4 separate regions of the Homo sapiens genome follow, and all the other regions are linked to region 4. The links come from fine-mapping of genetic effects on gene expression. A gene starts in region 4. Each other region holds a variant in brackets. All regions are shown on one strand. Distances are between the middles of the regions. Region 1 has its middle 170 kb from the start of ADGRA3. Region 2 overlaps ADGRA3 (adhesion G protein-coupled receptor A3). Region 3 has its middle 90 kb from the start of ADGRA3. Region 4 holds the start of ADGRA3 (adhesion G protein-coupled receptor A3).

Region 1 (8,108 bases), 170 kb before region 4:
GTGTGCATATATGTGTAAATATGTGTGACACATTGATATGTGCATGTGTTACATCTAGCCATGCATGTGGTATTATGCAGATGTAGATGTGTGTAGATGTGAAAGCAGATGTGTGCATACATGCATGTATGTGTGTATACATGCATGTATGTGTGTATGGTTCACACGTGTCTGTGTATCATAAATCCCTGCACATAAAGGAACTTCAAAACCTTTACTGGATATTTTTTCTAGTTGTCTTGAATGCTGGCCCATATCACCAGCCTGGAAATGAAGATAAATGTGAGATAATTAATGGCAGGCTCAAGTGGGATTCGATTGCATTATTTGCATTTAGTTATTGAAGGCTATGCACCTCATAAGATTTAGCATGAAAGAAATCTAAAACAACAGCAGTACATCACTCAACCTTTCAAAAAGCCATACTGCTGTATAATTAAGGATTTGCTATTGAGTAATTTTCAAAACAAACAAAAATGCTCTGCCCTTCAAGGTGTTGACAGGCTGACACTAACAATGGCAAACAAGTAATCATAAAACCCACTCAATACCACACAAAGCTCAACTGTTGAGCCTAGTGCTTTAAGAATAAACGGCAGTCAGTAGAGGCAGGGCCCTTGGAATCCCTTTTGGGTGCCTTCCAACAAACACCCATAGCTGTGGAATCGAGTTCCAGCAGCAGCATCTTTCAGGACGTTATTCACAGTGCAGCTGCTAGAAACTCTATTTCATTGATCTGATTCGGATTCCTCAGATATGTTGTTTCCACAAACTTGGACTTAGCCAGTTAGGTCATCTTCCCAATAAAAAAACTCTCCCTTGAAACAAGCTAACTCCGTTGTATTCCTACAGAGTATCTGGAGAAGTGTTCAAATGAACTGAGATTATGGTGAGACAAGTAAGGTTCCTCGGGGGCAAAATTTAGGGAACTGCACGCTCTCACTGCAGCTCCAGCATTGAATACCAGAAAGAGAATACTCAAGTTCAAAGGCCTTGTTGTAGACATGAACTGGTGTTATTTCTGAACTATTTGTGGCAACGTACAGGTGTGCCACATGCCTCGGGACTAGGCTGTAGCAATCCACCTAAATCCCATGAGGATTTGCACACTGGAGAGGATCTTTGATTATTAATCTTGCTTCAGGGATTGGATTTGGAACTTCAAAAGCACTTTCCTCCCACAGAAAATCAAGCAATGCATTGGAAGCCCATGATCTGGAAAGGAAGCATAAAAGAATGAAATCGAGCCAAATAAAGTATAAAAACAGAGTGAAACAGAACAATTTTGGTGATAGTAAAATTATTTTAGATCAACTAGACTGGAAAGCCAGCACAGCTTTAGAACTGGGAGAACCTGCCCAGACTTTCCTCTCTTGGGTCCATAATTAAAGACTGCTGCAGAGCCTGGATGCCATCTAAACCCTTCATTTATCCTCCTCCTGCTTCCTGCCACCTGCAGCCCCCTTACAAACACTGTGGACTCTGATTCCTTGACATGTCTTGTGTATGTCAATTTACCTTCATTTCTGTGGCCTCTTCTCTAATCAAAGTCAAAAGAAATCCCTTCAGGGCTAGAAAGGTTTAAATAGGCTCCCAACTTCCAGTTTTGTTCACATCCAACATACTCTACTGCAGCCTGAGTCCTTTCCAAAACACAAATTGTTCAGTGATTGCCTCTGTCCCTGAAGTTCAAACTTCCTGATATTAGCAAGGTCCGCATTATCAGTTTCCTGTCTCCTTCTATTTACACGCACACCAGTGTTCCTCTCATAAGCGTATTTAACTTTTTTCAGCTTTTCAAATCTACTATGATCCATGCTCTTTCTTGGGGCTGATTCTTCACAAATGATGTTTCCTGGTCTGGAACTCTTCTCTCCTTTATCTTGGCTAATCCTTATCTCCTATTGACCAGTTCAAGGTTACTTTTTAAGAACAGACTCCCCAGGACAAGCCAGGTCCCCCAGCACTGTGTTTCCATTGTCTCTTTTATGCCTTTTTGCATAACACTCATATATAACATTTTGTTTTAAAACTTGCTTAGTTGCCTGTCTTCCTCATTAATTCATAACTTCTCTGAGAGTAGGGATTGCCTTAATCAGGCAAGCTAAGAATTAAAGGCTCATTGGGTCTTTTCTCATCAATTCATTCACCAAAAATACATGGAGCATTTACTATGAGCCAGGAACCATACTAAACTCTAGAAAGACAATGGTGAGCCAAGCCAACCCAGTTAGTCCCTGAACATATGGTCCACATTTAAGTCCTCTTATAGTCTACTAATTGAAGTTCCCCAGCTTTGTTTTAATAGCATCCCATTTTTATTCCTTGTTACTTGGGGAAGAATCTAAGAGTAAGTAGACAGTTACCTCTAGTTTTCCTAGAGGTAATGCCTCCTCCCAATACCTTATAGATCCAGAGTAGAGAAACGAAATGGAGAGGCAGAGGGAAGAATCTACCGAAAACTATGGGATGTTGCCCTGCTCTGTTGTGTCCAGGAGGTCATTAATGGGGAAAGGAAACCTCTGAGAGCACTGACTGAAGTGAAATCGGGATTTAGGCTCAGGGAGCAGACAAGGATTCTCCTCAGAGGACTTCATCAGAAAAATGGAAGGTTCCTGATCTTAGCGTAGCTGATGTAAAGTTCCATCCACCCAGTGTGGTGTTCTGATGGTGAGGGGCATCTCCCTGGCTCTGCACCCAACAGAAAGTCTCTCCTCTCCATCTTCTGTAAGGCAACATTGTACTGTACTCACATTCCCTTTTTTGGGGGTCCTCTGAATTGCCCAATGGTACATGGCACAATAACAGCCCTGAACTTAACATTTCATTTCCATAACATTTGGAGCTACCATATAATCTGTTTATTTTAGTGATTATAAAAGATTATTATATTCTCATCTCATGTGTGTTGTATGTGTTTGCATTCTGACTAATGATTTTTTGCATTGTAATGCTCACATACAATAATCAAAATTCACACAACATAAGCCATATATTTGTATTATTCCTGAAATCAAGGTGAGGTCATAAAATATGCAGTGGCAGTCAAAGTCAGTGGGAGGGAGCTTGTGACAAATGCAGATTACCTTGAAAGCTTTGTTTTATGGCACACCTCTCATGTGATTAGTGGTTCACTGCAAAGACAGACATTGCACACACCAACAAAAAGAGAAAACACAAAGACATTACAACTGGGATAAAAACAAAATTCTAGTTTCTTATAATGGCAGAGTAGCTTGATGATGGCAGATTTACCCTATTGCCAACTTCAATTACAAACTCAAAAGGTAACACCAAGAACAACTTTTCGAAGGACCTGAAGATTGTGCAAAAGTGGGTAGAAACTGCAGAAGTTTCAAACCATGAAAGAAGGATTGATCATTTTTTCATTGGGGAAGTGATTTGAATATTGAGTTAGTATTTTCAAATTACGGGTGACATTTCTTTTCTAGAATAATGAGGGGTAGGGGCATAGGCTTGGGTATCAACTGACAAGCCAGACATGAGGCACAGTTTGGTTGTTTTCTAGATACGATTTAAGCTTGGGTGCATTCCTTGACCACCCTAAACCGAAGTGTTTATGTCTGTAAAACAACGGTCATCACTCCTAATTCACAGGATGGTTGCTGGGATTAAATTAGATGATACATGTGAATCCCTGAGAATAATGCCAGGCCCACAGTTGGTACCTTGTCAAAAATAGTCATGGGTAGGGCCTTGCTATTTACTCAAAGTAGTAGCTCGGCTTTCAGATGATTCTGAAGAGAGTATAACCTGGGTTAGACAGGGATTCTTTTCCTAGGAATACAACAGTTAAAATAAGCCAGCTGACAACAGGGTATGATAGGATGGTAATAAACTAGGGGAAGATTAGCAAGTTCTGTTTGTTCATATTTTTCGCTGTGTTCCTGAGTCTTCTGAGACAAGGATTTTTTTTCTCTTGATATTAGAGGGGTGCCCCTCACATGAGGGCCTTATGACCTACTTCAGGAAAAGGTCAGAGAGCGGCCTTCCCAGATTTTATGACCTGCTTCAGGGGAGAAGGCTGAGGGGAAGGTGAGAGTGACTTTCCTGTGTCTCCTGCTTTCTCAAATGTCAAGGGGTCATATTTTGAAATAGTATTGTCCTGAAATTCCATCATAACCTAAAACAAACAAGCAAACAAAAAGCATTTGTTGTCATCACTCATTTTCATATTCCAAACAATATTTGCACTGATGGGTGACAGAATGTGCCACCCCATAGTATGCCACTTTGGCATAAGGATTATTTTGATCTAAAGGCACTTAAAAAATAGCAGAAACAAAAGGACAATCGGCCCTCTCTGTACCAAGAAAAAGGAAATATTCTTGTCACTGGAGACAGGAGAGAACGCCCATGTAGAAAGATGCCTACCTTCCACCAGGAGAGAAGAAACATTTTTGTCACAAGAGACGGGCAGTCAAG[G/T]CTGAGAAAAATCTGTACAAACAGATCTTGCTATAACTTGTACCTTCCTTCAGCCTCCCTGTACATTTTAGCTACTTTTACAATTGCCATTCTTTGTTCAACCTAGTATATCAGCACTCAGGTTTTGCCACATCTCTGGGTCTTTGTTTCCTAACAGGGGCTCCCATGGACATGTAAAACTCTGCATGTTTTCCTCCTGTGTATCTATCTTATGTCAATTTAATTCTCAGGCCCAGCTGGAACCTGAAGAGAGTAGAGGTAAACTTTCATCTCCCTGCACTACCCTTGCTGCAATTAAATTTCAGCCCTACAATACAGTTTGAGAAATTCTTTATATGGTTTTGTCATGGAGTTTTCCTAATATCCTTCAGTGAGGCAATCTGAGCTATAAAAATGAGGGAGGAGATAGGGGATATTCAGGAGGTCTGACCCCTTCTATTCTAAAGCATTCAGATATTATTTTTGGAAAGACAAAAGACCAGTCTGCGTTGTCACACTTATTTCTGGATCACTCTCCCCAGCTTGAAGACAGCTTTTGTTTTATTTTTTATTTATTTATTTTTTTTTTGAGACAGAGTCTCATTCTGGCACCCAGGCTGGAGTGCAGTGCACGATCTTGGATCACTGCAACCTCTGCCTCCTGGGTTCAAGCGATTCTCCTGCCTCAGCCTCCTGAGTAGCTGGGATTACAGGTGCGTGTCACCAAGTCCGGCCAATTTTTGTATTTTTAGTAGAGACGGGGTTTCACCATGTTAGTCAGGCTGGTCTCGAACTCCTGACCTTGTGATCCACCCGCCTCAGCCTCCCAAAGTGCTGAGATTACAGGCATGAGCCACCGTGCCCAGCCAACTTTTTTTTATTTCTGCCTCTGCTGCTCAGAAACGTCCAAGTTTCAATTAAAAATGAAAACTGTTTTATGGCATAAATGCTAATGCATAAAGCTAATATTTAGTTTGAAGGGTTTTTTTCCCCCTCAAACCAACTGACCCTTAAATCAATTTTTTTAAAATAATTTGATTGTCAATCATTAAATGACAAACATTGTTGGCCAAGCACGGTGGCTCATGCCTGTAATCCCAGCACTTTGGGAGGCTGAGGCTGGTGGATCCCTTGAGGTCAGGAGACCAAGACCAGCCTGGCCAACATGGCGAAAACCCGACTCTACTAAAAATACAAAAATTAGCTGAGCATGGTGACATGCAACTGTAATCCCAACTACGTGGAAGACTGAGACAGGAGAATCATTGTTTTATCTTTTATTTATTTATTTATTTATGGTTTTTATTTTATTTTTTTGAGACAGAGTCTCAAATCTGAACCCAGGAGGCAGAGGTTGCAATGAGCCAAAATCACACCAGTGCACTCCAGCCTGGGTGACAGTGTGAGACTCCATCTCAAAAAAAAGAAAAAATATATATATTTTTTAAATAAATAAATGCATTATTAAACTTCTCCAAATTGTCTTTTTTTCCCCCCACAATGTTTATTTATTTCATTTCGCCTTTGGTCAATTGAGCTATGTCCATACTATTTTTTCTTTCTAGCTCTCTCTCATGGTATTCTTTTCTCTTCTCATGCACACAGATCTAGACTTCCAAAAACTCTAGTGACTGGAATTTTGTGGCAGCAGAAAGCAGGACACTCACCAAAGATCTTTCTCCTTCATGGCAACCACCCATATACATCTCCACCAAAAATAAAAAGCCTCACACATTTAAAAGAACTGTGATTATTTTACCTAATTTTTTGATGCTTTAAACAGAACTGTCTGTTTTGTCAGGCTGAGGAAAAAAAGATATTTTTATTTGCAATATCGTCCACAAATATGCTACATATGGTTTTTATAGCTAAAAACGCATCTTCTCCTCCAAGTGTAAATATTTTCTTGGGATGAGAAATCCAATAAAACCACAGATCCCTAGCCTTTGTGGTTGGTATAAACAGGCCCTGCTTTTTGAACTTTCAGTCTCCAAATGTGACAGCCACAGATTTTATTTTATAGGTTACTCTTTGCATTTTTAAAAAATGTGTTTGCAAGATTTATTCATCTGTGGTTAAATGTTTCCATGTCTCTGAAGTCACCTGCTAGGATCGGCCCCACTTTACATACGGGAAATCATTTATGGGAAGTGAACAATATTTCCTTTGTAGCTTTAACCACAAGCTGGCTCAGCCTCACCTTCACAATTAACTGAGTTTCCAAAATTATTTTCCTGGTGTGCACTGGGATTCTTTTCTTCTCTAAGAAATAGAGAACAGAATTGCCTTATCCCAAGCCCATGCTGTAGCTTTTAAATGTCAACAACACTTGCACTCTTCTGAAATGCTTAGCTGAGCCCCTGAGGAAGTGCGCTGTAGTATAAAGAATCCGTAGATGCAGCAAAGTTTACTTCTCCAGGTCTCAATTTTCATATGTATTCATTTCCTACCACCCTTTCCCCTTTGGCTTTTTACAAGATATATTTCCAAAATGTGGTTATGTCTTGGTGTTGAGGCTATGACAATATTTATTTTCATTTACATTTGTGCTTTTACAAATGTTGTACAATAAGTAGGCATTATATGTCAGTAAGGGGAAAATATTGTTCTTGAAATAAGACCACATGAAGAGTGGATAAATTCTACAGAACCATCAACAGACCCTGATTCTAATCATTAGTATTTTTCAAAGCAGGTTTTATGTGCATTTCTCTTCACCCAACTAGAAGACAGAAGAAAAACAGCTACACAGGCTTACTGTTCTCTCTCGAGCACTTGCAACAACTGTTTGGAATGGCAACATAGATGCATTGAGTAATAAAGTCACAACTTGCTGCCAATCATTTTGGGCTAAATAAAGCTAACATTCCAGAAGCTCTTGCCCTTCTACTACTCCTTTTTTGTGCACTTCAGCATATCATTTTATTTATTTATTTATTTATTTGGAAGGGGAAATGTTTGTAGTGCAGCTGTTCTCTGTGTCATATGACATAGCAGTTAACTACCCACAGTGTCTTGCCAGGACTCTCTCCCCCTTTTCTACAGTGGTCAGAGGAAAGGAACACCTTCATTCAGAATCATAAAATATAGCACTAAAAAGGCTCTGTTCATGGAATTTGGAGAGGAATCCTCAGTTAGAGTCATGGAGTCTTTTGAGATGGAAATGATATTAGGGGTCATTTAGTAAGGCACAACATTTATAAAGGAAGAAGAGAACCAGAGAACTGCCTGAAGGAGCTCTGTAATAAGTCATCAAAGCCAGCACTCAAGTCCAACTTTTTTCATTCCAAGTCCTATCTTTCTTTCCAGCATTTTAATTCCCCATTCGAAGACAGAGTCTATTATTATTCTTGCAGGCAGAGCATATTTCTACCTTAGAGTTCATATACCAGAAGAGCTTTGCCCAAATTTACTTTGATGTTTTAGCATGCTGGGACATCAGAGAATTCTATATTCCTTTTTATAGGCACATTCACTTGGTGGTTCCACTTTCCAATAGGCGTGTTTCCAACAACAACCAAAGGAGCAGAAAAATTACATTCCTGGCCAAAGTCTATTCACTCCATTCCTATTTTTTTTACTCCTGGCCAAAGTCTATTCACTCCATTCCTATTTTTTTTACTCCTGGCCAAAGTCTATTCACTCCATTCCTATTTTTTTTTACTCCTGGCCAAAGTCTATTC
Region 2 (8,108 bases), 82 kb after region 4:
CTTTTATCAAATAATCCTAATATGATATTTACTATTTATGGTAGATTTTCTATATTCTCATAGTTTTGAGTGCTTTACATTTTTAAAAATAGAGCAATTAAATGTTTATAGATCAATGAATTATTTGTCTTTGACACTCCTTAAGATATTATGCAATTAAATTCCCACTGCATTAATAAGATTTAGTTTAGTGTTGCTTGATCTATTTATGTGGTTTTTGTAATGAATTCTGTTTTGGTGTGACTGATACTGTCATTTAGTGGTTCCTGTGATGAGCATCCATGGTAACTTGTATTAAACATGTTGAATTTCATTCTCAGTTTTGGAGACATAGAGTTCAAATAACAAAGGTTTCTCCCAGCCCAGTTTTGATGACCCGTGTCAGGGTTGTATTGACATGACACATCTTCATCTTTGATTTTTTTCTCTGCTGTTGTTATTCTTGATGTACCCGTGTCATTTAGATTTTCTTGTACTATTTTGTCTTCATCTCTAGATGGCCCAGAACATTGGCAGGCATTACTGCATATCTGCAGTGTACGCGGAACACCCATGGCAGTGGGATATATCCCGGAAACCCACAGGATGAGAGAAAAGCTTGGCGCAGATGTGATAGAGGTGGCTTTTGGGCAGATGATGATTATTCTCGCTGTCAGTATGCAAATGATGTCACTAGAGTTCTTTATATGTTTAATCAGGTAACTAGAAAGTCTTCATGTTTACTTGGGTTGTGGAGAAAACATGGTATTCAAACCAAATACATAAGTTTTTTTTTTTTTTTTAATACTAGGCAAAACATAAGGATTTTGTGTTTTTACTTTAGTTGACTTAACTGTCTTCAGGATCAGGTCCATCTTAATCACTAGTCAAGGCCCTCTATAGAATCCTTCCTTTGCAGTCACCATCTCCCTTTGTGCCTTTGTTTGAATATCTTTTTTTTAATCTGTATCCACCAGACAGAATCCTAACCATCCTTCGAGTTCACATTGAAAGCCACCTCTTGGATTCATTTTATAATCACTTTGTTGAAAGCGATTGCTTAGAATACTTGAACTACTCATGTGCTTTTTGTTATCTTTGCTTCTATGCATCTTTTTAAAACTTACCAGACTATAAGCAAGTGGAAGATGGCTTTTGTGTAATGTATTTTCTTTTGCCCCTTAGCACCTGGTAAAAATCCTTTTGCAATGTTAGGTGCTAAGTCCGTGTTAGAGTCAGTAGATAAACACATGTAAAACATTACTGGCAGTGCATGGCAATAAAGATAAGTGCCAAATAAGTAGTTCGTACTCTTGTGCAGTAGGAGCTCCAAGGGAGGTATTGATCATTCCCAGCAGGAATACTCAGGAAAGGCTTTATTAAGCAATTGGAGTTGAGGTATGTGTAGAATTTGGATAGGCAGAGAAGAGATAGATGGTGCAACATGTTAACCTCATGTATTTTTATGTATTATTGTATTTCACTCCAAGCTTGAAAAAATTTCCCTCCAGTGAGTTTCCATTAAAATTCCAGTTTTCTTGGGTTTGTAAAGCATTTTAAGAAGGCCATGATGAGTAAATAATAAAGTTTTTAATTCGTTGCTGTTTTGAAATGCAAAGTTAAAATGTCAGGATTGTGTTGATCATTTTGCTAATGACTGTTTTGTTGATCATTTTTGCCTTTGAAATGTAGATGCCCCTCAATCTTACCAATGCCGTGGCAACAGCTCGACAGTTACTGGCTTACACTGTGGAAGCAGCCAACTTTTCTGACAAAATGGATGTTATATTTGTGGCAGAAATGATTGAAAAATTTGGAAGATTTACCAAGGAGGAAAAATCAAAAGAGGTACTTCTCTAAATTCAGATTTGTAGCATACAGTGTCAACAAATGGTAGTGTGACAGAGTTCAATCTATGTATTTTAAGGCCTGTTTATGTTTATCATATTTGAGCTAAAAGCATGCTTTTAAATTTCCAGAATTTTATTGAGATACTTCTGCCTCTTCTCTTATGACCTGTTTGCTGCTGGGACCGGGAGAGGTGAACTCTCAGTTCTTGGACGTTAAGGTCCAGAGATACAGCAGAGGTCGCTGGTGAGAAAGCAGTAAAAGCAGTGTTCTGCCTCCACGTTGTGGCTTAGGCAGAGCTGCTTAGCTCAGCCTGCTGGATTTCTCTTCTCCACATATCCTCGTGCTCATCTTTTGTAACGGGAGTTTTAGTCACCCAGATCTTGTAGTAAATTCCTTTTAATTGTCCTTGTAATGTCCTAGAGAAATGAGAGGCTGTTTAGGCACTTTTTTGAAATTCAAAATGATTGGACTATACAAGTTTTAAAAAATGCAGTGAATTCTAAAAGTGGCGTATTTTAACTTAACGGGACCACATTGAAACCATGATATGCTTGTCCACATGATATCTTTTAGGGGAAAAAAATTGACAAGCACAGTTTACAGAATGAATGAGCAGCAAATTAATGTTTTGAATAATTTTCAAGGGGCAGAATTATTGTGTTCTTAAACTTTACGTTTAAAGCTTCGTGAGAACTTTATATGTACAATTTCTTTTGTGATATAATCACTTATAAAGAAATTAATTATAGAGGTAGAGGGAACCTCAAGCAAGTTGTAAACTGAAGCCCACGCTTAGGTTAGGGCACGCCTGGAAAGAGAACCCAAGATCCCTGACTCATCCATAAGAGTTTTCTGTAGCATCACATTCACCTTCCCATACAATGTGGCCCTGACTTGGAACTCTAAAAGTGCTCTGTACACAACTGTGAGGAAAACACTGGGCTAAACAAAACCTGCGTATTTCTTTATGTAGAACTTCTCAGATCCATTAATATTGCTAAAATGTAAATAATAAGCCTTATTTTCCTGAATCATTCTAATATATTTTTATATATCAATTATATATACACACACTTATATATCACATATATATTCTAATATATTATATAATATATATTTAGATATATCTAATGTATATTACATATTTATGTATCTAATATAGATATATTGTTATATATAATATATATATAAGAATTAGTACTTGCAATGTGGTAATAAGTTTTTGAAACTGTGGCCCTAGTGCATTAGGCACTTTACTTGATAGGATGTAGTTATTAAAGGAAGGAAAATAGATACATGTATATAAACGGGACTTAGGCAAATAGGCCACCTCACTTGTCAGCGGGATAACATTTCATTTGTTTTCTGAACTTCAGGGGCCATGATTTTTTCTAATAACTGCTCCTGATACTTGATTGTGTCTCCAGGGCACAGCCCACTTTCCTGCAGTGAATTTTCCTTGCACTGGGAGAGGCCGTTTGGGTTCTGGCTCTGTGATTATATTGTGCTCCATTGTTGCTTAAGATGACAGGGTTGGTGCCCACAGGATTAGCAGTCATTTCCGGGAGTGGGATGTTTCTAGTTACTAGAATAATTGTAATGACATTTGGAATGTGGACATGGAAGAACATTCGCCATCGAAGAATACATGTTTATGATGTGAACCTGTTTTGCTCACCTCCCAACTTGAGCAACGTGGTGTCCAGAGGTGTATGTTGAACTGTTTGCCAGCCTGTGGAAGAGTGGTCGGCTGCGTTGACGGGTTCTTAGGTGGAAGCATTGTACTGAACTGGAAGTAGACATGGTTTCATTAGTTATTAATTAACCATGGGCTTATTCTTCATTTTTCAAATGGGGATGCTATTTTCTCTGTATAATTTGAAAAGTGTATGTGCACAAATACAGGCGAACAGTTTTGCAAAATAGTTGCAAAGCTTGGATATCATTTTATTAGGTTATGAAATATAACATTTTTATGACCTCAGAAGCTAAGAAGGAAGTCCTTTTAAATAATCATGAGTGCATCAGTTAGTTCTGTAAAAATTTAGTGTGAAGAAGATTGCTGTCACTTTTACTGGTTAACATAGGACGGAAAAGTTATGTTATCTTCGGAAGCAAGTGATGGCAACTTACTAACTGTCAGCACGAGAAACAGGAAAATATTCAGGATTGAATAATTGAGATATAAATGTGATAATATTGCGTGTGATGCAGTGACTGACATACAGTTCTTTGGCAATTTGAACCACAGGCCATAGCTTTCACCATTTATTAGTGTAGTGAAAAAAACTAGGAGGCTTGAGGGCTTCATTTTAAGTTAATTACCACAGCATAAAATTATGCCAAGTTATCCTAAAATGCACCTAGCTTAGATAGAGAAATAATTAATTAAATTGATTTTTGTATTATGTCTGAAAGTTATTCTTTTATGAGTGATTTCATAACAAAAGTATTGTGGGGGAATTGCTTTTTAATCTGTGATTGAGCCTGGCCAACACAAGCTGGCACTTTGTTGTCTCAGGATAGGCATTAAAAGCTCTCAAACTGCCAGATCTAAGTGATATATTTAGTGGATCCTTTTAAAAACAGTTAAAGGTTGTCTTGTCAGGCAACAGAAGTGTCTGTTATGTATTTACTAAAGTGATTTTTCTTATGAAAACAATATGCATATTTTATAAGATG[G/A]GAAAGTTAAATATAAAGATTAGATCTGATGATGCTTTCTGGCACCCTTATTGTCTCTTATTTTAAAATATGTGAGTGCGATATGCGCCTTACACTAGTTTATATATAGATTTTTACAAATATATGGCTTTTTCATTGATTTTAAAGTGTCATCGCTTCTGTATTGACAATTATGATTATTTTGTATTCTTTTTTTTCTTGATCTTACTTGCCAGACTTTTCTGTATTATTAAGCTTTTCTAGGACTTTGTTCGTAGAACTTCACCACACATCAGAATCACTTGCTGGATTTGTTATACGCAGTGATTGCTGCCTGAGTTCCCCCTCCCTGCCATTCCCAGTTGCCATTTCAGCAGGTCTGAAATGGGTTCAGAGAATTTGAATTTCTAGTCAGTTTCAGGTGATGTTTCAGGCAGCATGACTTTGATACTGGCTTTGAGAACCCCTGTAACAGCTCCATTTTCTATTGTTGCTTTAATTTTTTTTTAGGTGGGGGGTTTTAACTTTTTAAGAACTTTTTCTTGGAAAATTCAAAAGGATAGGAGAATATTATCATTAATACCTATGCTGTACCTCTGCTTGGCTTCAACAGTTTTCAATACAGCAAGCCCTCACTTAAGGTCATCTATAGGTTCTTGGAAACTGCAACTTTAACTGAAATGATATGTAATGAAACCAAATTGACCATATGCTAATTGATGTAAGTAAAACTTATAAAATCCCTAGAGATCATTTCTGGTCACAAAAATGTCACCAAACTTCCAAATAAAGACCCCAAACATTTCTAATATTAAACATTGAAATAAGTATGAGCCATACACATATTTAAGAAAGATTAATAAAAACAAGACAATTATTTACCCATTGTGTTAGTTTTCACTCTGCTAAAAATGACATACCCGAGAGTGGGTAATTTATAAAGGAAAGAGGTTTAATTGACTCACAGTTCAGCACATCTGGGGAGGCCTCACAATCATGGCAGAAGGCAAAGGAGGAGCAAAGTCATGTCTTACATGGCAGCAGGCAAAGAGAGAATGAGAGCCAAGTGAAAAGGGAAACCTCTTATAAAACCCCTTATAAAACCATCAGATTTTGTGAGACTTATTCACACAACAGCGGAGCAGTCAAATCTTAAAGCTCCAAAATGATCTCCTTTGACTCCATGTCTCACATCCAGGTCACACTGATGCAAGAGGTGGGTTCCCATGGTCTTGGGCAGCTCTGCCCTTGTGGCTTTGCAGGGTACAGCTCCCTCCCAGGTGCTTTCACAGGCTGGCATTGAGTGTCTGTGGCTTTATTGTACCCTTGTACAATATTGTTATATATAATATATATATAAGAATTAGTACAAGGCTTTTCCAGGCACACAGTGCAAGCTGTTGGTGGATCTATCATTCTGGGGTCTGGAGGACGGTGGCCTTTTTCTCACAGCTCCACTAGTTGGTGCCCCAGTAGGGACTCTGTGTGGGCGCTCTGACCCCACATTTCCCTTCTGCACTCCCCTAGCTGAGGTTCTCCATGAGAGCCCTACCCCTGCAGCAAACTTCTGCCTGACGATTCAGGAATTTCCATACATCCTCTGAAATCTAGGCAGAGGTTTCCAAACCTCAGTTCTTGACTTCTGTGCACCCACAATCTCAACACCACGTGGAAGCTGCCAAGGCTTGGGGGTTGCCCCCTGTGAAGCAGCAGCCCAAGCTGTACCTTGGCCCCTTTTAGTCATGGCTGGAGCAGCTGGGATACAGCTGCTAGACACCAAGTCCCTAGACTGCACACAGCACATGGACCCTGGGCCCAGCCTATGAAACCATCACAGGCCTGTGATGGGAGGGGCTGCGGTGAAGACCTCTGACATGCCCTGGAGACATTTCACCATTGTCTTTGGGATTAACATTCAGCTCCTTGTTACTTATGCAAATTTCTGCAGCCCGCTGGAATTTCTCCACAGAAAATGGGATTTTTTTTTTTCTATCACATTGTCAAGGTGCAAATTTTCCAAACTTCTGTGCTCTGCTTTTCTTATAAAATGGAATGCCCTTTACGGCACTCAAGTCACCTCTTGAATGCTTTGCTGCTTAGAAATTTCTTCTGTCAGATACCCTAAATCATCTCTCTCAAGTTCAAATTTCCACAAATCTCTAGAGCAGGGGCAGAATGCTGCCAGTCTCTTTGCTAAGATGAAACAAGAGTCACCTTTGCTCTAGTTCCCAAGTTCCTCATCTCCATCCCAGACCACCTCAGCCTGGACCTACAAGCCTCTAGGAAGTTCCAAAGTTTCCCACATTTTCCTGTCTTCTTCTGAGCCCTCAGACTGTTCCAACGCCTATTTGTTACCCAGTTCCAAAGTTGCTTCCACATTTTTGGGTATCTTTTCAGCATCGCCTCACTCTATTGGTACCAATTTACTGTATTAGTCCATTTTCATGCTACTAATAAAGACATACCTGAGACTGGGAAGAAAAAGTGGTTTAATGGACTTAAAGTTCCACATGGCTGGAGAGGCCTCACAATCATGGCAGAGGTCATGGAGGAGCAAGTCATGCCTTACATGGATGGTGGCAGGCAAAGAGAGAGCACTTGTGCAGGGAAGCTTCTCTTTATAATACCATCAGATATCGTGAGACTTACTATCACAAAAACAGCATGACAAAGACCTGCCCCCATGATTCAATTATCTCCCACTGGGTCCCTCTCACAACACTTGGGAATTGTGGGAGTTACAATTCAAGATGAGATTTTGGTGGGGACACAGCCAAACCATATCAATAAGTGTTGGTTGGTTGGGAGCATTAATGAGAAAGGTCTAATGTATCCTTAACTGTGATATTTGCTTGCTTCTGCCGAGTGCCAGTGTAGGGGGACTCATTTTAAAATTAATTTTTAGCTTGAGGTTTTTAAGAACACGAAAGTAGTATAAAGGACCTGTTTGAAGGTCAACTTGTGTTTCCAAATTGTCAGAGAATAATTTTTTTTTTTTAACCTCCTTCTACCTCTTGCCCAGGTCAAAACAGGCACGTTTCCTGGCTCTCCTTCCATGAAGCTGAGTGATTGCTGGCTAGGCCTGATGCTGGAGGTGGTGTCCTTTGAGTTTCTAGCTTTGTAACAGGGGGTCTTTTCCTGGTACCCTGTGTTGGCATGGCCTAGGCCCTGTGTGGAAGTCAAAACATACCTCGTGGTCATCAGAGTTCAACCTCAGAGCTCTTTGGATTTCTGCTGTTCTTTGGTGACTGGGTTTTGGAGGAGGATCTATTTTCCTACTTCTCAGTGATGCATTAACAAAGATAACTGTTTTCCTTTCAGCATTTTTTCACTTTCTGCTGGAGAGTTCTCCAGAGTACTCAGTCCTCTGTACTTCTAGAAAAGGAAGTGCACGTACGTGTTTGTAATCTCATTTATTTCAGTAACACCTTAGGGTAGAATCAGTATTTTGGCATGTTTTATCTTTTAATATATTTAATATTTACAGATTAGCACAATTACAACTAAATTTATTGTTCAGTTTTTTTTAAAGTTTTGAATGTGTGGACTTTATGAGGATCAAGCATGAGACCTGATGGTAGACACATCATCTCTCCTGAAGAATTATGATTATTACA
Region 3 (8,108 bases), 91 kb before region 4:
ATCATGGGAATGAACATTTCAAGGGGAAAATGAATGGAGTTTGGTGTCTAAATATAGGAAAGGAATGAGCAATCTAAGACAAGGTTAGCGTGAGGTTCTCAGGGTTGCTGCAGAAAGGTGATACTCTTGGCAAAAATATAAAGGTTGTGGTTAAAAGCCACATTCAGTGAGTATACACTACATGTCAGGCATTACATATTTTTCAGAACCCCATTGGGTAGGCGTCATTATCTCTTACAGATAAGAGATTGATTCAGTGACCCCAAGTTTTTCAGCTGGGTATCCTATTCCAGTGATTGAGGTTGACTTGGTTAAAAGTACTGATTTAAGATCAACTTACAGTTGCAAGCATGGATGGGGGTAAAGATGTACTGTCTGGTCTTCAGAGCTACCTCTCCCCCATTTCCCAAGTTACTGGGCTGAACTGGATGTGGGATATGCATCTCACAACCTACGTTGGCTCACAGGTTCTTTTGCAAATTGGTCTATGCACCTGTAGATTCCTCCAGGTGTCCTCCTCATTCTGAAACAGTCCAGGGTGGGCAACTGGAAATACCTTGAAGAAGACGCTGAAGAGAAAAGTGCCCGGATAAAGGTAGGGGAACCTGATTAATGGAGCAGAATGACACCTGTTATTTTGGAGACAACCACCCGCAGGGTGATAAAACCCCAGAGAAAATAACTGAAATGCAGTACATGAAAATGTTTTGCTTCCATCTTTTTGATCATCCATCTGATAAGTTACTACCTAGAATATGGAAACTTGACTTTGCTAAAAATGAGTTCTATGAGAGAAGCCCAGAGAAGACAATGCTACTGATGCACCTGGAGAGTTGAAGATACTGCAACCGAACACTCAGGTGGTCTCTCACTGGTGGCAGGAAACAAATGTTCTTCTTCAACATAGAAATCACCATGGAGATGGCATTATAGAGCTAGCATCTCAGTGATAAAAAGCCGTGGGGACCAGGTTCCTTGGTCCCTGGGAGTTTATCAGCGGTTGAAAGATACCCTGAGCTTGCCCCCTTTCACCCCTGATCCAGCTAACACACACAGCTCCGCAAGGGCTGGCTCGTTCTCCCAGATTTGCAGCTGTGGAAATGCCAAGATTTAAAATAAATTTTCTTGAAAAAAACCAACATCGATGGAGTGAAGATATTATTACTACATAACCACCAAGTCTTGGTATATGTGTTTCTAACAGTAGTGTGGAGGCAGAAGTGAAGATAAAGATCCCATGAAGATAAGGAGATTTGTTGCAAGGCTGGCATAAAACCTGAGCAGATGATCACAATCTCTGTGTGGTTTATGCTACCTGAGGAGAGACCCAAAGTCCAGGCAGTGCTGGCTTACATCATTGTTTTCCAGGAGCAAGAGCCTAGTACTTTGGTCATTCCAAGTATTTGGGATTGTTCAGTAGAGCATCAGTTCTTGGTACCCAACATATATTATTTTAAATTGGAGAACTGAAGCAACCAAAGGTGGGGTGATGTCCTCATTCATTCTAACTAGAGTTGACTCTGGCACATTTGGCTACCTCAAGGTAACTCGGTACAAAGGATTGTATTCACTTGGATCTGATAGCAAGGAAACACTCCTATAGTTACAGATGTGATGTCACTGAGAGGCAAGCATGGGTTAGGTAGTGAGAGACATACTATTTTGGAGTTGGACAAGACTGGATTTTAATCCCATCTCCAGCAATTAATTGCCCATTGTAAAATGCTAAGTTTAATAAAGATATGATCTCAACCACCTGTCAGAGCCGGAGTGAGGATTAAATTCAATTATTTTGTGCAGCACCTGGTGCATGTAAAGCCCTCAGTCCATACTCATTCAAAACTCACTCTTACCACACAGCCTCTCCCTCCAGCCTTGCTTCAGGAGGTCTCCCGTAACTGAGGGAGAGTGGAGCCCCTGGCGGGACTGGAGACAAACAAATGGACTTTCCTTGCCAATTGAAATAAAGACAACCCTCTTTGCTCAGGAGGAAGCAGGCTCCAGGGACTTGGGAATCTCAAAATATGGTCATGAGTCACAGGTGAGACAAGAGGGTCTTCCCACAGGTCTGTGAATTAATCCAGAAGTGCAAGTCTTTTCTTTGGTTTTTACAGATGAATGGTACCCAAATCCATACACTCTCAACTTGCTACAGTACTGGCTATAGGTGAGTTACTAGTGGCCTAAAATGATGGAAGGCCCTAGGAAAATTCCCTGTGTGGCACTTGAGACTTCCTTACCCCTTCTGTGGACAGTCGTTATCCCTTGTGTGGGGAGTAGATGGAATTAATAAGCTGTGATATTATTTCTGGGCAAGGTGCAATAAGACGTGTTTGTTCCTCCCAAGGTGGAGATTACAGAATTGTAGTGAGGGAAGGGGGTGATAATACAGCATCCAAGGAATGTTTAGAGAGTTATACTTGCCTGCTTTTTGACATGTGTGTCTCTAGAGAAGTCTAGGTGGACTCCTGTCCATCAACATCTCAATGTAAAAGAGCATTGCTGTTGGATGTCATCACCAGTCCCCTTCCAGGTCCCTGCAGCTATTGTGGTTAGCATTGCTGTTCCCATGGCTCAAGTGGCTTTGGACTAGTAGGTAATGGGTGGGGGAAGAAACAGCTCCCCTCCCCTCCCCCACCCCACCCTACCCTGTGTATATTCCACTTCCTGAGACTTGGGCTATGCCTACAGGAAGTAACAGAAACCGTTGGTGTGCCCCTAGCTCCCTCCCCTCTGCCAACTGCACAGTTGCACTTACTGAGGCTGGGCTGCAGGTGGCAGGCACCCCTCTGTGATCCTGCCATGGCCAGAGGAACTCATTCTACACCAGCTCTTGGGTGTAAAGTTGTACGGATACTGAAGACTTCCATCCTCAGGCCAAAAGGTCAGGATCAGTGCAGCTTATACCTGCGCTCACAAAGAAAGAGAACAAAAGGAGAGTCCGTGGCCATGGCTGCCTCCAGTACCCATTTAATTGGCATCTTGAATCAAGTAGAACTGTTTTTAGGAGAAGTAACCCATTTTGGAAACCCCAAAAACCTTCAAAACTTAGAGTTAATGAAATAATATTCTAAAAATAAAGTTGATAAAATGTATCTGAATGCATGCATACATAGACCTTGCAAATATCCATTTGATGCTCGCTTAGTTTCGTTAGGGCTCTATTCACTCTGACCTCATCATATGACAACCCACTTGACTCCTGTCTTCCCTTCTGTCCTTCTACTTTGCTGCTAGTGTAATTCTATATTCTTCATTTGCATTCTTTCTCAGAATGAAATCCTGAAAAGCAACCCCATTCGGTATGGACTCAGAATCCCCATGGCATGATCTGATACCACAGGCAATCTCTCTTCCTAACTCAGGGCCCAGGTAACACATGGTAGTGCCAGAGTGTGAGCTGCCTGCTCTCCGGTGAGGGTTAGACCAGGCTTTGGGGAGCTGCCTTGAGTATAGCTGAGTTGTCAAATATGCAAGTGACATAAGCCAGAGGGGCCTGTGTGTCACTCAAAGGTGCTGACACAAGCCAATCTGATCTGGGACCAGTAAATGTTTAATCCAGTGAGACGAATAGAATGCATTCCTGCCAGTGCCCCTACTGCTCTTGCACATGGCAATGCTGCTCCCAGGACTCAAGTGGCTTTGGACTAGCAGGCATTGGCATGTTGGGCAGGGTTGGGGGCAGCTATATGCTGCTTCCTGGAAAAGGACTGTCACTTACATCACAGCCCCCAGCTTCACCTTATCTTCACTCAGATGCCCTCTCAGACTCCTATTCTGCTACTTTTGTGCCTCCTCTTCTCTCTTCATCTCGCTCTCTCTCTCCTCCTACCCCTTAATAACTGACCACTCTCCATATTTTCCAGTCTACAGCCCAAAAGGGAGATGGACACATTGTTTTAGCTAGTTACTCTCTACCCACTTGGACAGTGTCTCTTGCTCCAGGTCCCCTCATTGGTTGCCCACTGGCCTATGGATACTATTAATTGAATTAGCATCCACCTCCGTCACTGCTTATGTGCACAGGGCCTGTTCCCATGGTCATCTTAATCTGAAGTTGGGAAAGCAGCATTATAAATGATGTGCCCAGTACTTAAGGAAAATCAGAGAAGAAAGGCATAGAGACAGGATGCATTCACATTTTGGAGAAACCTACTATATGGCAGACACTATATGTCAGGTACTGTACTAGGTACTTTATAACTGCATGTATCTAGTTAATACTCAAAAAGACTTATCTTTTCCCAGTATCAGAGTTTGCGAATCAGAGGGCTGATATTTTAGCATGGCTCCGGGTTAAAGGGTCCAAAGAGGCCTCCTGCCCAAAGTTAGGATTGCCTTCTCTGAGCAACAGAATTCCCACAAATCTGTGTAGTCTTAGCTGAACAGGATTAGGGTTCCATCTAGTTGTAGTGTGTTCCTTTTCTCAGCCTTGTTTGTGTGCATAGACACAAACATACACCATGGACACTTCCAAAGGAAGAGTGAGTATAGGAAGACACAACTGGGATCTCTTACTATGGTAAGACAGAGTGTTTGGGGTCCTGGATCCCAGCCAGTGCCTTCACT[T/G]ACATTTCAACATTTCCAAAATAGTTCTTGGAATTTCCACTTTAAAAATGAGAAAACAGACTCAGGAATGTTAATGGACTGTCTGTAAGAGTGCTAGCTGTGCCTTCCCATATTTATTCATCTCTTAACATTGTCTTGCACTCTAGCCAGACTTCCAACCAACTACCCACACCTGTGACTCTACCTGAGTGAGTCCACCCTGCCCGCCTGTAGAGCAGACTGGAATTGCCACAACTCTCCCTGCAGAAACCTTCAACCACAGCTGATAGTGTAGCAGGACGAGCCGCAGACAAAACCTCTCAGACACCGAGTAGTAGAAGGAAGGGCTTTATTCAGCTGGGAGCATCGGCAAGCCATTGCCTTAAAATCCGAGCTCCCCGAATGCACAATTTCTGTCCCTCTTAAGGGCTCACAACACTAAAGATTTCACATGAAAGGGTCATGATTGATTTGAGCAACCAGGTGGTACGTGACAGGGGCTGCATGCACCGGTGGTCAGAGAGAAACAGAACAGAGCAGGGAGTTCCACAATGTTCTTCTATACGATGTCTGGAATCTATGAATAACATCGGTTTCTAAGTTATGAGTTGATTTTTAACTACCGGGTTTAGGCCAGGCAGACCCAGGCCCGGTTTCGGGCCTGGTGCCGGGCTGCCTGTCTTTGGTTTTGCTTCCTTGTTGTTTTTTCTTAAAACAGGTACTGAGTATAAAACAATATAAAACAATATGAGAGGGTCTCTCTCTTCCCTCATTCCCCCCTTTTGAGACTCTCACTTTTTATTAGTGGGAGTTCTCACTCTTATTTTTGCTGCTTATGTCTCTTTGTGTAATAGATTGATAGTGATTTATATAGTACACTTGTGTTGATGCATTTTGGTGAACTAAGGTAATGATGAAGCTTTTTATCATTTGAAGAAGTACAGATAGTAAACAAGGGAGCAGTAAGCAGGTTCTTATTACTATTATTACTTTTATTATAAGAGTTTTAAATCCTCTTATTGCTGGGAACCAATTTTTAAACATGGCTCCTGGATTGAGTCCGTGTCACACTTGCATGGTTACATGTGCCAGTTTTGTTATATTTTTAACTATATTTTTAACTACTTGCCTTTGATTATCTATGTGTAGACAGTAATTAGTAAGGTTAAATTGTTCACAAACTTTTCCTTCAGCTGCTAGCAAGTAGTCAAGAGCTAGTCTATTTTGATAGATAGCATTTTTCATCTGAGTCTCTTGCCGGGCAAGAACAGTCAAGGCTTAACCAGTTTTATTAGTAATAATTTCTAAAACAGCTTGTAACCGTATGATTTGCTTGAGCATGTAGATGGGGGTCCGATATCCCCATGAGCCATCTTGTATCCAAGTGGCGGGTCCATAGTATTGTATGATTTTTTTTTTAGGAGGCCATTTATCATTTTTTAAATTACCTATGGCTATGCTTCGTTTTCTCTTTTTTTTTTTTTTTTTCCGGGAAGCATAGACTGGGAAGCCCCGAAGTTCACCTGTCTTTATGGACAGTAAGAAGAAAGATGGCTTAATGGTGCCAGTTACACAGCTACCTGTCCACTGATCAGGCAGCTTAGCATAAGCTTTGTGTCCACATATCCAGTATAACCCGGTGGGGGCCATCCAGTCCCGGTGGAATTCTGGATGGGCCTAAACAGTCTGCAACTTTGGAAATTTCCTGAATGGATTTATTTCTGTGTAATTGGAACTCCACAATGTAACTGTTTTTGTGGTACTGTTATGCAGCTTTTGCCCAAGACAACTAAGCTGCCCTACAGGATGAATGAATCCTTTTTCTTTTTTAGCTATGTAATACTGTCTAATAATTGAGACTTTTAGAATCTAGAGATGATCAGAGTGATCTTTTGGGCTGGGAATTCATCAGGAACTGGGTCTGTAGGAACCTATTCTCGGGCTTCCTATGGCCATTGATCTCCTGTTACGGTCCCTCTACAAACATAACATGAGGTGACTTGTAGAGACTGGGCTACGTGTTCGGCTAATTGCAAAAACAAATTTTTAGTTTTTCTTGGAATCTCAGGTACTGGCACATTTAGTTTATCATAGAAAGTCTGATATACTGGTTCTGGAGAGCGTTTTTGAACCTCTCCTTCTATTAGGATGCTTACACTAGGATCTAGTCCTTTTCCATCAATGCCTAATGTTACATGTGTTTTTAATTTTACTTTGGGTCTGAGGGGTTTGTGATTATCAGTTTTAAAAGGCTGCAACTCCCACTCATGCAGGAGGGGCTGACTTTTCCTTTTTGGAGTCAAACAGGATTTTATTTTATTTTTTTTTAAGTAGCCCAAATGACACAAGACCAATATTGACACATCTCACATAAATATGATTTTTGACAGATGTACTTATTTTCTGCTGTGTAACTTTTTTTTCCAATCTAGAGAACCGCATCCTATCCCATGCTGCTTACTATCAATAGCAGCACAACCATCAAATTTTAAGGTTACATTTTTGGGGACCCCTCTTTCTTCTGTTTTAGCCATTACCTTACTTGTGTCACCTAGAAAAGGACCAGTCCTTAATTTTATTTTAAAAACTGTGATCATGGGATGCTTAAAATGGGTCATAACACGCATCAAGTTGGTTATTTCCTGGGCTACATACCTTGGATAGAATAGCATTTTACAGACAAGTTTCTTTCAGAGTCCTGGTACACTTACAATAACCATAAAATAATAGGACCGTAGCAATCTTTTGTCCTACCTCAGTGACTTCATGTATATACTGGAAACAGTTCTCAGTCTGAGGAAGGTCAGTTGAAGTCCTTATTGTACAAGTCCAAATTTTAAGGAAAATGAGTCCCGCGATGAGTTTCCTCATGTTTCGGCCGTGTGTGGAGCAGTCAGCTTCCGGGTGTGACTGGAGCAGGGCTTGTCATCTTCTTCAGAGTCACTTTGCAGGGCTTGACGAAGCTGCTCCCATCCACGTACAGCTCCCAGTCTACTGATGTTTAAGGGTGGTCTCGGAGGTTGGGCCTACTAGAATAAACTGAGTCCAATACTTTTACACAGTTATGTTTAACTGGGCTCTCTGATGCCAGGAGTAAGGTGGCAGGGTTAGGGTTTTGCAGACTTTAAGGGTTATGCGGGGATTTTCACAGAGCAAGCTTTGGTATCTAGTTAATCTAGCATTTATTAGCTAATGATGTCCTTTGGTATTTATTAAAATCACCACAGCATGGGGAGACTTTCTGTTTAGGTTTTGCCTAAGAGTTAGCTTGTTTGCTTCATGTGCTAACAGGGCCGTTGCTGCCAGGGCCCTTGGACATGGGGGCCAGCCTATGGAAACCCTGTCTAGTTGTTTTGAGAGATAGGCCACTGGCCTTGGCCAGGGCCCCCACATTCCGGGTTAAAACTCCAACTGCCATTTTTTTTCTTTCTGACACATAGAGTGTGATGAAGAGTTTTGTCAGGTCAGGTAGCCTCAGGGCTGGGACCAACCTGAGTTTTTTTTTAAACTCATGAAAAGCTTGTTGCTGTTGGTTGTAATAGATGTAGTTTATCTAATCT
Region 4 (8,108 bases):
CTTGGTCATCCATGCCTTTTTGTTAGCAGAATAATGGACTGATAAGAAATTCACTCCTTGAAAAAAAGAGAGGACAAACCTTTGCCTATCACAGCAAGTTTACACTTATGCGTGCCTGCAACATTAGCACATCCCAGCACAGCTATTCTGTCCTTGGCATTTTTAATTCCTATAGAGGCTGTCTCATCTGCCACCGTCAGTGTCTTTCTGGGGCAATGATGCCAAAATAGTGATGTTTCGTCAGCATTATAGACGTGCTCTGGTATCCAGTTTTCATCAGCGATGATATGGGCAAACTCATTAATGACTTTTTCCACAGCTTTCTGATCTGCAGATGCTTTATCACCACAAATCCTTAAACATTTAGTGCTGTGTCTTTGCTTAAATATCTGCAACCAGCCTGTTGAATAGTCACAGTTCCTTTCAATTTCAAATTCATTGTGATAGATCTTTGCTTGTTTCATGATCAGCATACCATTAAGTGGCATGTGGTCACTGTGATGCCGATGGATCCACTTTTTCAGTGCACAATTGAGATCTTCATATTTTGCATCATACAGTGTTTTTCTATTTTTCATTTACTTGTGTTTATCGCTTTTAGCATAGATCTTCAATTTATCCTTCTGTTTCTTCAGATTATACATGGCGGTCATTCTGTCACCATACTTTTCTGTAACAAATCTCATACCCATACCACTGTCCAGTTTCTCTAACAGCTGGACTCTGTTGCATAAACATAATAAATGCTTCCTCTTTTTATCACTGATAACCACAGATTAACTTCAGGCTTCTTTGATATTTCTTTTTTTTTTTCTTTTGTTTTTTTTTTTTTTTTTGGAGATGGAGTCTTGCGCTGTCACACAGGCTGGAGTGCAGTGGCACGATCTCGGCTCACTGCAACCTCCACCTCCCTGGTTCAAGCGATTTTCCTGCCTCAGCCTCCCAAGTAGCTGGGATTACAGGTGCCCGCCACCACACCTGGCTGATTTTTTTGTATTTTTAGTAGAGACGGGGTTTCACTATGTTGGCCAGGCTGGTCTCAAACTCCTGACCTCGTGATCCGCCCGCCTTGGCCTCCCAAAGTGCTGGAAGTACAGGTGTGAGCCACTGCACCCGGCCTGATATTTCTTTATACTAACAATAGCTTTACACCACAGAGCAAAGAAAAGGAAAACAAAAACCAAAAAACAACAAAAAAGCAAACCCACAGTGAGTAATGCACGTAGATGAAGGCCCAGTGTGGGCATTGTGGGGAACTTGTCGTTGGCAAATCCAGCCTGCATGCATGCCATTTGATTACCTTTGGGGGGCACGCTTGCATGGGGGAATTTAGGCATGCCCTGAAAAGATATATAGCAGCAGAAAAGGGCTGGGAGGGGCTTTTTTCCCTTGGGGATGCTAGTAAACTGCATAGTGTGTCTGCATTTTGATGGTGACCCATCACATGTGACCAGGTGTGGAATTTTGCACTTGAGGTATTACTTGTCGGAACTCAAAAAGTTTTGGATTTTGGAGCATTTCAGGTTTTGGATTTTTGGATTAGGGATGCTCAATGCTCAATCTGTAGTAAGGTTTTATCTTAATCAAAAAACAGATCATTATTTTGTTAGGGAATAATAATTCTTCAGATAAATTCAAGAGAAATGTGATCCATTTCACCCACCTTAACACAGAGGCACCAGTGTGCCTGCTAAGGTTATTTATAGATCCGAAGTCACTTAATGGTGCAGATAATCTCCCACTTTTTCTTCCCATCATAGTGTCTGGGCTTATGTTGTTCAACACCAACAGGGTAGCCACTGGGCATTTAAATTCAAATGTAAATTAATTAAAATGAAATGAAAAATTTAATTCTTATTGCACACTATCTACATTCCACACACTATGTAGCCACAGTTGGCCACCATATTAGACAGCAAAGAACTAGAACAGCTATACAATCACAGAATGTATTATTAGACAGCACTGGACATGGTTGGGTTGGTCAAATGAACTGCTATTCAAATTTAATACAACACTGATAAATGATAAATGGAGACCATTTATTTACTTCCCATTGAGAAAGCTCTAGCCAGATAAACAGATTCCTGCAAATTGGTCCCTAAGATAAATTTTGTAGGGGCCAGAGGCAGTAGTGTCCTTAGACCCAAGCAAGAAAAACCGTGTTCTAGGCCCTCCATTTTAGAGGACACCAACCTGACTCTTCTTATGGGGTGAAAAATCTCCAGGCCAGCACCCAAAGCCTGGGTACCCACTATGTCCCCAAGACCCAGGACCCTGGAATTCCCTGACTGGTATTACCAAAGCCACTTCTTGGCCCTGAGCTAGCTTCTTCTGAGAACTGTCCTCCCAATGAAGGACCCAACAACTGGTATAGGCACACCTGAGATCCAGACGCAGACAGAGGGTGGCTGTTAGAAAGTGTGAACAGAACTTGGTTTTGTGGGCTGCGGTGTTCACACACAGGTACAAAAAATCCCCTCTTGTCCTTGAAGATAGCTGGGCACAGGAAGCAAAGACGGTGAAGGTGTACAGGCCAAAGGTTTGGATCTGACTCTTTCCCACCTGCCATGTTTCAGGGAGAAACTCCAAGGTGTCTGAGAATCCTGCTTACAAACCTTCCAGGTTGTTATGAAGGTAATTTCTCAAGGCAGGAGCACAGAATATATTTTATTAGCATGATATAGTCCTTGTAAAATTTTAAACATAGGGTAGGTAAGCCCTGGGCTTGCAAATGTTAGGGCGAGGCTGGAAGTCAGAGTAATCAATTCTGTTGGGGTTTCTTGGAGGGTTTGCTCATTATTGCTCGAACTGGTGAACATCTCAAGTATCTTTGCCTGTCGAATTTCTTTCAAAAGGCTGCCTTTCTAGTGAGGTCCAGATGCATCCTTTAGAGACCATCGCTGTTGTTGCTGAAGGCCAGAAACAGCTTCAGATTGTTCACTGTATTGAAGAGGAACCTGTTTACTGGCTCCAGTGTATTTGGGACAAATAAGACTACCATAATGAGGTGAGAAGGCGATTCCTTCCGAAACACTTGGTTTTGGGTACTTTTCCCATAGGGTTGGTCAGGGAAATTCCCTACTCTCGTCCCTACTCCATCCTCCGGGCCAGGCTCCTTGGGCCACATGGGCAGTCTCCAGGAGCGCACAAGACTGCTTTGTCCTGTGCCCGCGGTGCGAGCGCGGTGGCGGCGAAGGGAAACGAGCAGGAGAGTGGCCACCGCGGGTGGAGTTTGGACTCGAACTTTCCTCCGTTCGGACTCGAACTTTCCTCCGTTCTCTCTACGAGTTACTGCCTTCCCGCGGGCTCCCCACAACTCCTGCCCGGAGGCCGAGGCCCGGGCGCGCACCGGGTCGGAGTCGGGCTCGGCAGGTCCCGGGAGCGCGCGCCTCCTCCCCGAGGTCCCGGGCAGCTGCAGACACGGGGAGAGCAGGAGAGCCGGGAAAGAGGAGGGGAAGGGGCGGGGGCGGCCGCCGGCGGCGGGCGGGGAGGAGCCGCCGCGCGCGGGTCCTGGCCAGGGGAGGAGGCAGTGGCGGCGGCGGCGGCGGCAGAGGAGGAGGAGGAGGCGGTGCTCGCGCCGGGCGGTAGAGCGGCGCTGGGACCCATGCGGCCGTGACCCCCGGCTCCCTAGAGGCCCAGCGCAGCCGCAGCGGACAAAGGAGCATGTCCGCGCCGGGGAAGGCCCGTCCTCCGGCCGCCATAAGGCTCCGGTCGCCGCTGGGCCCGCGCCGCGCTCCTGCCCGCCCGGGCTCCGGGGCGGCCCGCTAGGCCAGTGCGCCGCCGCTCGCCCCGCAGGCCCCGGCCCGCAGCATGGAGCCACCCGGACGCCGGCGGGGCCGCGCGCAGCCGCCGCTGTTGCTGCCGCTCTCGCTGTTAGCGCTGCTCGCGCTGCTGGGAGGCGGCGGCGGCGGCGGCGCCGCGGCGCTGCCCGCCGGCTGCAAGCACGATGGGCGGCCCCGAGGGGCTGGCAGGGCGGCGGGCGCCGCCGAGGGCAAGGTGGTGTGCAGCAGCCTGGAACTCGCGCAGGTCCTGCCCCCAGATACTCTGCCCAACCGCACGGTCACCCTGTGAGTATCTCCCGCGACGCTGGGTCCTCTCCCGCTCGGCTCTTTCTTATCTCTCCGCTCAACTTTGGAGCAGGGTCCAGCCGGCACCCACGCGCCTTTGTGTGGAGCTGTAGGCAGGGGGCGGTGCTAGGAAAGACCTCGTGTGCTTGGCATGGGTGCAGTTCAGGGAAAGGCAAGGGAATCTGCGTCCGAGCTGCCTCCCAGCTCCACTAGTTTGCAAAGTAAAGTTTTCGGGTTCTCAGGCGCTCCCCGCGCTGTCCCCGGCGCAGCGCTTTTGGGCTGCGCGGTGCCACGTGAGGATGCAAGTAAACACGCAGTCAACAGAGTTAAAGCTCATTCATCCTGGGCTTGGGTTTCCAGAAAACACAATGCTTGATTGCAAGCGCCAGTCCTTCTGCTTCTTTGCAAATTAAGTTACACTTACGTGGTAGAGTTTGCAAAACACAAGGACTGTGTGCGAGCCCAAACCCCAAGACGCTTCCTTTGCCTTTTGCTATCTTAGTTTTATTACAGTTAAAGAGCACCTTTTAAGATAGAGTTGTTATTAAGGGCTGGAAACATTTCAGATCAATCTGTTTATGTACCTTGCAGTCCCGTTTTCGTGTCTGTGAGGGCTTATATTTAAAAGCCAGGAACATTGGAACTGAAAACCGTGGGTTTATTGAGCCTTCCAACTCGAGGGATTTTTGATTTTCGGATTGAGTTTCCACCTGGAAGGAAAAATTTTGGTAACTCACTTGTGCTGGGATTCACGGTTCAGTTTTGCAAACGTAGTTTTGCCAATTCTAGCTGAACAGTTGGCCCCAGTGACTGTCGAGTTTGTTTTCAGAAGGATGAATTGGTTTGGAAAGTTTTGAGTCTAAGTGTTTCTCATGGGTATTTTGTTCAACTGAAATGTGAGTCCCTTGGCTCGGGGTTCCTCTATGTTGTTTTGGTTGGTTTCCTAAAAAAAGAATCAAGGCAGCCACTATACAAACATGAATGCAAGGACCGCAGCATGATCTATGAAAACACTTAAAGTATGGTTTTAAATGTAACCCAAATTCAGCAGGAGTATACACAGGTAGGCCAGGTATACATTTCATTACTAACACTTTTGTTTACCTTCATTTCCATTTTTTGAATTAGGAAACGTTTAACCATGAAAATTGTGTCTATGTGTCTATTTATGGAGGCATGAAGATGGATGAAAGAGTTTTTGTTTTATTTGACTCCGTTACTAACACGTTACCATGTGGTGGTGGCAGCAGTTATATTTATTTATTTCTTAGTCAGATTCTTTGAAGTGGAAATTTTCGGTATGGGACTTTAATTACAGTCCAAATGGAGAAAATCCCAATGTTGGAGGAGATTTTCTTTGTTACTCTGCAAAAATTAGTCATCATGCAGTTATGTTATAAACATTTAGGTTTTGGGTCAATGAGTGACATTTACGTTGACTCATGTTTAGGTCCAGTTTTTCTGACCTAAAAGTGTCCACAATTTCAGCTGGATTAGGTCAACTACTAGTAAATTGTTGATTTTGCGTTGCAGAAAAAAATAGGGGATATGGTGGTAAATTGATTTTCAGCATATTACCAATTAAACTATTTTTCTACAATTTTTAGAAACTGGTTAAAATATAAGTAACTATGAAATGTCATTTCAATCCAGTTTTTTTTTTTTTTTTTTTTTTTTTTTTTGCCTGAAAGCTTTTTAGATGAAAATAAAGTTAAGGTTGGGCATGGTGGGCTCACACCTGTAATCCCAGGGCTTTGTGAGGTCAAAGCGGGTGGATCCCTTGAGGTCAGGAGTTCAAGACCAGCCTGGCCAACTTGACGAAACCCTGTCTCTACTAAAAATACAAAAATTAGCCAGGCGTAGTGGCGTATGCCTGTCATTCCAGCTACTTGGAAGGCTGAGGCAGGAGAATCACTTGAACCCGAGAGGTGGAGATTGCAGTGAGCCGAAATCGCACCACTGCACTCCAGCCTATGTAACAGAGTGAGACTCCCATTCAAAAAAAAAAAGAAAAAAAAAATTTGTTTAGTGAATGGGAAGAAGATACAATTAAGGATCAATTAAAGCTGTTCTGCTGGTTGTGGTGGCTCATGCCTGTAATCCTAGTACTTTGAGAGGTGGAAGTGGGTGGATCACCTGAGGTCAGGAGTTCGAGACCAGCCTGGCCAACATGCTTAAAGCCCCATCTCTACTAAAAATACAGAAAATTAGCTGGGCGTGGTGGCGTGCACCTGTAATCCCAGCTAGTCGCTACTCGGGAGGCTGAGGCAGGAGAATTGCTTGAACCCAAGGAGAAGGAGTTTGCAGTGAGACAAGAAGGCACCATTGCGCTCCAGCCTGGGTAACAAGAATGAAACTCCATCTCAAAAAAAAAAAAAAAAAAAGAGGAAAGTTGTTCTGGCTGAAGAGGGTTCAAGGTATATGAGGCCCCCTGTAGAGGGGTCTTATGGGCCAGTTTCCTCATTTTACTGGGGAAAGAGTTAGAGTTACTGTAGATAAGGGACTTGCTCACCAGAATTCTCATAGTAGCATCAGAGTCCACGTCCCAGATTCCTGTCCTGCAGTTCAGATGCTTTCTCATTCCTCACCTTGCCTTCATCTTAGTTGAGCACAGTTTTTGTTGAGTGGCCTCTAGGTAGTAGGTAGCGTGTTGAAGTTTGGACTGTGTGTTAGTGCCTAGGGCTGCTGCAGATTACTACAGGCTTGGTGGCTTGAAACAACAAATTTATTCGCTCATAGTTCTGGAGGCCACAAACCCCAAATCAATCTATTAGCAGGGCCATGCTCTCTCTGAGGACTTTAGGAAGAATTCATGCTTGCGTCTCTCATCTTCTGGTTTTCCTTGGCTTGGGGCAGCATCACTTAAGTCTCCGCATCTGCCTTCCATTGGCCTTCTCCCTGTGTGTCTGTGTGTCTCAAGTCCTCTCCTTTCTCTTATAAGGATACCAGTTACTGAATTTAGGGTCCACCCTAGGTCCAGGATGATCTCATCCCAAGATCCTTTAATTAAATACATCTGCAAAGACCCTGTTTACAAGTAAGATCACGTTAAAAGGTCAGGACTTGGACATTTCTTTCTATGAAACACTGTCCAGCTCATGACAGAATACAAATAAAAACATGCTCTTTCTTCTCCAGGAAATTACAGATATTTGGGGAGAAAAATTCATGACTAAGTCTCAGAACAGTATGGTCAATGCTCTATTACCAGGGTGCACATGTAGCAAAAGAAACCCAGAGGAGGGCAACCAGGGCCTCCTTCTCCCTCAATCCTAGTGGGATTGAGGATCCTGAGCCAATTCTGGAAAGAGGAAAAAGATCACTGTGGGGCGGGCGCAGTGGCTCACACCTGTAATCGCAGTACTTTGGGAGGTTGAGATGGGCAGATCACTTGAGACCGGGAGTTCGAGACCAGCCTGACCAACATGATGAAACCCCATCTCTACTAAAAATACAGATATTAGCTGGATGTGGTGGCTTGCACCTGTAATCCCAGCTACTAGGGAGACTGAGGCAGGCAGGAGAATCGCTTGAACCCGGGAGGCGGAGGTTGCAGTGAGTGAAGATCGTGCCACTGCACTTCAGCCTGGGTGACAGAGTGAGACTCTGTCTCAAAAAAAAAAAAAAAAAAAGAAAGAAAGAAAAATATAACTGTGAAGAAAACGGTGAGGGAACAAGGGGAGGAAATGATAGGTTGGAAGTGGGGGACCCCAGGTGCCCACGGGTTTGGAGAGGACAGTATCTGGTTATGCTGCTGTGCAGTTGGTGTTACCGGAATGTCAAAGGTAAGTGTCTGGTGCCCAGGGTGGTCAGAGGAGTCTGTAGGGGCTGAGTCGAGGATGGCCAGGCTCCCTGGTTTGAGCCTTTATCACTTAGGTGTGGCCAGGTGTTTTCAGCTGAGTCGTGATGTGGCCACAGAGAGGAAAATTAACTGATGGGAACTGGGAGAATGGCAAAGATGGGATATAATTTTTTTTTAAATCATGAAAAATAAAGCCATTTCTATTTAATGGATGAACTGGTCTTCATCATAGCCTA

The links.
Region 1: its variant is fine-mapped to the expression of ADGRA3 in whole blood (TOPMed, PIP above 0.99). The same link has a PIP of 0.9 or more in blood mononuclear cells.
Region 2: its variant is fine-mapped to the expression of ADGRA3 in sun-exposed skin (GTEx, PIP 0.96).
Region 3: its variant is fine-mapped to the expression of ADGRA3 in lung (TOPMed, PIP 0.94).

What each region holds. Positions count from the first base shown.
Region 1 is chr4:22,678,908-22,687,015 of GRCh38, reverse strand. No RefSeq gene overlaps it. Among named protein-coding and RNA genes, the nearest start is that of ADGRA3, 170 kb to the right of the region's middle. The variant G/T (reference allele first, on the strand shown) is at 4,447.
Region 2 is chr4:22,429,030-22,437,137 of GRCh38, reverse strand. It overlaps ADGRA3 (adhesion G protein-coupled receptor A3), which reads left to right. Exons shown (of 19, transcript NM_145290.4): 9 at 497-698; 10 at 1,672-1,827. Among named protein-coding and RNA genes, the nearest start is that of MIR12115, 82 kb to the left of the region's middle. The variant G/A (reference allele first, on the strand shown) is at 4,513.
Region 3 is chr4:22,602,197-22,610,304 of GRCh38, reverse strand. No RefSeq gene overlaps it. Among named protein-coding and RNA genes, the nearest start is that of ADGRA3, 90 kb to the right of the region's middle. The variant T/G (reference allele first, on the strand shown) is at 4,570.
Region 4 is chr4:22,511,490-22,519,597 of GRCh38, reverse strand. ADGRA3 (adhesion G protein-coupled receptor A3) reads left to right here and starts at 3,532. Exons shown (of 19, transcript NM_145290.4): 1 at 3,532-4,070. The coding sequence starts at 3,814. It overlaps MIR12115 (microRNA 12115), which reads right to left and starts at 4,286; the gene lies at 4,213-4,286.